2 linked regions of the Homo sapiens genome follow. The protein of the gene in region 1 purifies or fractionates together with the protein of each later gene. This does not show direct contact. Each region holds a gene or a part of one and is shown on either strand. Other genes may lie near its edges. The genes, in order: CACNA2D3 and PAGE2B.

Region 1 (2,584 bases):
ATTTTAAAAGTTATAACAACAAACAACAAACAATGTAGTGGAATCATTTTAGTATAAAGCAGTACAGTGACATCAGTTTTTCTAAAATATCAAGAGGATAATGTGCCCCTTTTTAAAAGAGTTTAAGTAAGTAAGTAGGATTCTCTGGATAACTTTTAGATGTCGTCTGTCCTATAAAGTAAGGCATTCTCTACTCTGCCTAGGCATGGAAATTATTTCACTTTATTTAGTAACCATGATCCAGTGAAATCTGTTTTCTTTGGGTCAAGAGCCAGCGTTTAGAAATGCTTGCTTACATGTCTGGGTAGTTTCATCTCATCATACTTGAGATCTAATTTCATATCTTGTTTATGGGGAAAGCCAGAAGCCAAATTTGTAATCATTGTTCTTTTCCTCCTTCAAGTCTCCTCAGACCGAATTCCTAGGATTTATGACTTCTTTATTTCTATTCCCAAATAATTCACCACTTGAATATGATGAAAGCTTGTGTTTGCATCCAAATTATGATTTTCATTGAAGTTTAGTTCAACAAAATTCACGGTTCTATGTAATAAACTCTTCCCATGTAGATGATATTTTGATATACTTCTATAAATATTTTTATAACTGAGAGTGAGTGAAGCATCTAAAAACAGTTGTTAAATATGTGCCTAGAATCTGCTTTAGAACAAAGGCTCTGCCAACAGCCATCATTTCCTGGTTTCTGGAATGGGGACCTTTTCCCCCATGCATTGTTTTCAGTTGGTGTTCTTAGCAATAAAGTGATGATAAAATCCAAACACGGAGATTATGATTTTAATATACTTTATTTAAAAAGTACACAGTTTTAAATTGGTTTCAATAGGTTTCAAGCAGAAGGGACACTGCCTACCACTTGCGGTCCCATTTCTGATGAAGGGTGATTATCATGTGGCAAACTCACATTTGCATGACTGGCAAAGTAAAAAGATGATAGATAACTTTTTGTCAACATATCTTTAAGAGTTTATATCACGCACAGTTTAAAATCATGATGAGATGCTGATGGTTGGACTATATTCATGTCTCGTATGTTGCACCATATTTTGGTTCACAGTTTATCCATGATTTAGCATGCCAAGAGAACATCTCAGTCAGTAAGAGAACATCTCAGTCAGTGTCACCTTGAGAAGAGCATCAAAAGCAGAGGGAGCAGAAGGAGGACTGTCTGGGCTTGGAGACTCGGCGCACCCCCACACTCCCTTGCATTCTCCTATGGGGAAAGGCAGGGGTTGGTTAGACGGAAATAGACTCCAGGACACCTTCAACTTTCCCCAGACCTCTCTCCCCCTCTCTAACGTAAGAACGAAGTCTTCTGGGACCTAGATGATGGTGCAGATTCAGTTTACTGAATGAAAGGGATTATTTTCTCATGAGTGAACTTTTCAGCTGTAGTTCTTTGACCAGTGTGAGACTCTCGTGGTGATTCTGATGGGAAAAGGAAACAGGAACAGTTCTCAGACTTACCTCAGGATGGAAGCCATGACAAGATTCTGGGCGCCTTCTGATCTTCTGGGCCTTTAGACGTTCACACTTAAGGGATTCATTATGTTGACTGTAGTTAAGGCATGTTTCCAAGGATTGCTTTTTTCTACTCTGCATTTCAGAGGTCAAAATTTGGCAATGACAACTCTCTTAACTACTCTCTCTCTCCAACAGTGGAAAGGATGTAATTTTCCTTCTCTAATATTTCTCCCCCAGGTTTCCTTACCACTGATACCCCTTACTGGTTTCCGTGGTAGTGAGTGGACCTGCACACAAAAGGATATACCTGATTTCAATGGGTGCCATGGTGATGGGGGCCACAGATTCACAGAGGCAGCTGCTGTCCACCACCACCATGAACAGGTTGCTGCTTGGGATTTGCTGGATGACAAAGGACCTGTTGGAACAAGAGGTAGCGAGGCAGTCATTTACCATCCGTCAATTAAAGAGCCATGAGGAAGACTTCTCTCCTGGGTGGTAGCAACTACCATATTTTGTAAAGCAAATTTTGGAGACTATTTTACTACTAATGTTACCTTCTTTCTCCATGAGGCTCTTCACTTACAAATACCTAGCTTCACTAGGAAAACAACAATAGCTATGACGACATGCGGCTCATACAACTCACCTTGGAAAGACTGAAGTGCTGTATGTACAAAACACAAGAGTCAGAGTTGGCTGAATCACCTGTTCCCAAGGTTTAAGAGGTCAGACTTTCAAAGCCTAATTTCCTTCTCCCAGAGCCTAAACATTACCCCAAGTTACATTTGATGTTCCTCTAAGTGGCGTTTTCTCTCCTCCTTCCCTCAACGATAGACTGAAACTATGTCATACCAATGGCAAAAGAGATAGTGAACTTCTTAGAGCCTTCCTTATACTGCTTTGCACAACGTCTGCCCAGTATACAGGAACAGTGTTTTGAATGAGATTAATGCTAGTCATTTATGAGGTCCCACACTTCCCAGAGCCCAAGTTCTATAAGAAAGAGCCAAGGCTGTATATCTGCTCTGACCTTCTGATCCATCAGGATAGTTAGTCCAACTTAAACAAGCTTGGCAGTGCCTCCTTCTCACATTGCCCA
Region 2 (3,931 bases), on another chromosome or scaffold:
CAATCTGACTAGACTATGAGCTTTAGGCAAAAATTTGGCACTGACATCTCCAGCACTTAGTATATTACGTGGTATGAGGAAGCATCAATAAAGGTGTGTTAAAAAGTTTCTTAAAAAATACATGACGTGTCCACAGATGGCAGACTAGGAAGCTGCAAGCTGCCATTCTTCCACAGCAACAAAAAACAGAAAATGGCTGAACAAAGCATACAGGAGCTCTGGAAAAAGGTTTATGGCAACCATGAAAATACCCAATCAATAAAAAGCCTCCGTCAAAGTGGTAGGAAAGCTTAGTGGCTTTTTATGCGTCCTTGTCCCACCCCTCCACACAGCAGCAGTAGGAAATGTTTAAGATTCCTTCCTAATGCTTTCTGTCCTCCTGTTACTGGTATGTCATAAAATACAATGCATAAATAGACCTCCACCACCCATAAGCATTATTCTCCACTCTCCCTTCACCTTGAACGGCAGGTGCTCCTTCATTTTCGATCTCCCCACTAGGTGCAATACCCTGATTATCAGTTGGTGGTTCCTCTTCTTGACGTTTTTCCTCAGTGGGCTCCTGGACCTAAGGGTGTAAGTGTGTGTGTGAATAAAAAGTCAATAATATAAATACACAAATGCATATGTGCATCGAATCACACATCTAAAGACATTTTTCCAACATATATAAACACATATATATGTATATACATATATGTATATATACATACATACGTATATACATACATATATACACATACATATATACATACATACATACATATATACATATATACATATACACACACACACACATATATATATATAGAGAGAGAGAGAGAGAGAAATATCCATATCCATACAGGTAACACCAGAATATAATATTCCTGAACCAACGTTTCCTTCATGAGATGCCATCATCATTTTTTATCAGCATGGAACACCTGTATCAGTGCGTGTACACTAGCTCAAAAATATTTCTTAAAATAAATTGTGTTAATAGGAAACATCAAATGTTAAAGGACTCACAATCACAGATCCAACTGGCTGGGAAGACTCTTGGTCATTTCCTCTTTCTGAGGATTGGGATCTTGTTCTCACATGCTCACTCATATTTCCCACTGAAAATAGAATACTGTTATTTGGAAAAAGTGTATAAGAACTTAGCTATATATATGAACATTCCATGGCAAAATGGTGATTTGTATTTTTTTAATTTTGAAAATATTTTCAACGTAATTCACAGAGCATTGATAAGTACCCACGCTTTCCAATCAAACTAAGGACAGATTTGTTTGTATCATAGTCGAAGAGGCATAGAAATCCCCTTAACGCCATAGCAAAAGACAGAGGACATTTCTGCGTTTTGGTTTCACAATTAGACTCTCCATCATGAAGACATTTGGGGGAAAAAAGGGCAGAGAATTGAAACTGAAATGACTACTGCTTTTGTCCCACTCTGATTTGCTAGGCCCATTTCACCCCCACACCTCTCTCAAAATCAAGTCTTGTTGGAAAGCACAGCCTCGCCCATTCCTTCCATGGCGTCCATGGCGGAGGTGAGAAATTGTGAAACAGAGTGAACGTTATGCTCCTCACGGGACACCTCTGCCAGGCACTCTACAGACCTCGGGGCCACAGTCACCGGCCCACAGCGTTCCCAGTTCCCAGGCCCCTTCCTTACTGACCACATGGTCTCTTCCCGCGTCCCTACCGAGGAGTCTGGAAACTGTCCTCTCTCAGAGGGTTCCAGGAGTTTTCGAGACTCAGACACCTCTAACAGCACCCCCAGCACTCGCCCCATCTTCACGCGATCCCTCCCCTCTGTGGCCCACCTTCCTCCCTCGTCCCTCGTCCCAGCCCAGCCACGACGACAAGTCCCACGGTGGCATCCCGACCTGGGAGGGGCCGGACGACGACCGCGAGGCCCTTTTCCCTCGGAAGCCACGGACTGTGCCGCAGGACCTGTCCAAAGCCAGCTGGCTCCTCCACACATTCACCCACAACTAAATTCCCAGGAAGACCGCTCTGCGGACCTACCGGCTGAGTCTCGGTCAGTGACAAAGAATCAAGATGGCGGAAAGAATGAAGACACTCTCCTTGCAGAGCTGTGTGTGGACAGAAGGCGGGCAGCAAGGCGCATGCGCAACAACAGACACGTGTAGCAACAGACATGCGTAACAACAGACAAGTGCAGCAACAGGTCTGTGCAGCATGCACACTGACTGGGACATTCGCCTCGTGACTGATGTTTTCCTGCGTCTGTGGAGAACCTAAACCACCAGCGCTCCTGACAACGAAAATGAACTTGCAAAGCACTTTTCTTTTTCCCCCGCCCACCCTTTCTTTCACTTCCAGTGGCTTTGGAGAATATGAGCCCCAGGTTACTCTAATAATGTGTTTCAGAAAACTTCACCATCATAGAAATAAATCTTAAATATTTTAATATCTGTTTTATATACGCTTCCATAAATCATTTTCTTGCCTCCTTCACGAGTTTGCTGTCATGCTTGCAATTGTCTAACCCATTCCAATATAAGACATTCATAGTTTTTGGTTGCATTATTGTACGTTCAAAATCTTTGATCCATCTGGACAAAATTAAAGTGGTAGGAACTCAACATTATTTGTTGAATCCCTGTTGCACCCACTGTTTTGAAATGGCTCTTTTATCATCACCTACATCCCCACTCAATTTTGTATGTAACTCTCTTCTTTTAATTTTCTTCCATTGAGTTGTTTATACCTGTACCACTACTACACTATTTTAATTGCTGTAGCTTAAATTATATTTGAAATGTGAAATAATGCTTGCCCTCCCTCATTGATTTCTCCTTTTCTATCAATTCTGACACGTTGGTCTTTCAGATGAACTTCAGAATCATTTGATCAGGTGCTAAAATATTCCTGTTGAGATACTAGTTATTATTTTTATATTACATGTTAACTCTGGGACAATAGCCATCTTCCTATTTTAGAATCTCTCTATCAAAAAAAAGCCACTCCTCAATTCCTCAAGTCTTTTAACATATCCCACACAATGACTGTGTTATTTGCTTCATATTAGTTCTTCACATTCAAATTAAATTTATTCATGGGCACTTTTATTTTTCTATTCCATTGCTGACACGTGTTTGCTTCTACTCCACTATGTTTTTCACACAAGTCAAACAATCTGTTTGGAAACCATGTGATTCTATACCTAGAAAATCCCAGAATCTCTGCCCAAAAGCTCCTTGATCTTATAAACAACTTCAGGAAAGCTTCAAGATACAAAATTAATGTACAAAAACCAGGAGTGTTTCTGTACACCAACTACCTTCAAGCACAGAGCCAAATCAGAAACACAATCCCATTCACAATTGCCACAAAAAGAATAAAATACCTAGGAATACAGCTAACTAGGGAGGAGAACAATCTCCACTATGAGAACTACAAAACACTGCCCAAAGAAATCAGAGATGACACAAATGGAAAAACATTCCATGCTCGTGAACAGGAAGAAGCAATATTTTCAAAATGGCCAAACTGACCAGGGAAATTTATAGATTCAGTGATGTTGCTATTAAACTACCAATGACATTCTTCACGGAATTAGAAGAAAACTACTTTAAAATTCATATGGGATGGTTGCGGGGATCTGGCAAGATGGCGTAATAGGAAAAGCTTTGGTCTGCAACTCCCAGCGAGACCAACACAGAAGGCAAGCACTTTCTGCATTTCCAACTGAGGTACCCAGTTCATCTTATTGGGACTGGTTAGGCAGTGGGTGCAGCCCATGGAGGGTGAGCAAAAGCAGGGTGGGGCATCGCCTACCCGTGAAGTGTAAGGAGTTAGGAATCTCCATCCCCCAGCCAAGGGAAGCTGTCAGGTACTGTGCTATCTGGCCCAGATACTACGCTTCTCCCACAGTTTTTGCAATCTGCAGACCAAGAGATTCCCTCTTGTG

Evidence for each region.
Region 2: the proteins of CACNA2D3 (region 1) and PAGE2B purify together in Homo sapiens (affinity purification with mass spectrometry; one large-scale study listed by BioGRID and IntAct). This does not show direct contact.

The regions. Positions count from the first base shown.
Region 1 is NC_000003.12:55,072,761-55,075,344, reverse strand, and holds the end of CACNA2D3 (voltage-dependent calcium channel subunit alpha-2/delta-3 precursor), read right to left. Parts: intron 1,901-2,584; coding exon 1,788-1,900; intron 1,569-1,787; coding exon 1,486-1,568; intron 1,232-1,485; coding exon 1,139-1,231; 3' UTR 788-1,138; downstream 1-787. UniProt on the Homo sapiens protein: The alpha-2/delta subunit of voltage-dependent calcium channels regulates calcium current density and activation/inactivation kinetics of the calcium channel.
Region 2 is NC_000023.11:55,073,206-55,077,136, reverse strand, and holds the start of PAGE2B (putative G antigen family E member 3), read right to left. Parts: upstream 2,108-3,931; 5' UTR 2,023-2,107; exon of another isoform or gene 1,881-2,022; intron 1,118-1,880; exon of another isoform or gene 1,104-1,117; coding exon of another isoform or gene 1,096-1,103; coding exon 1,012-1,095; intron 569-1,011; coding exon 460-568; intron 1-459.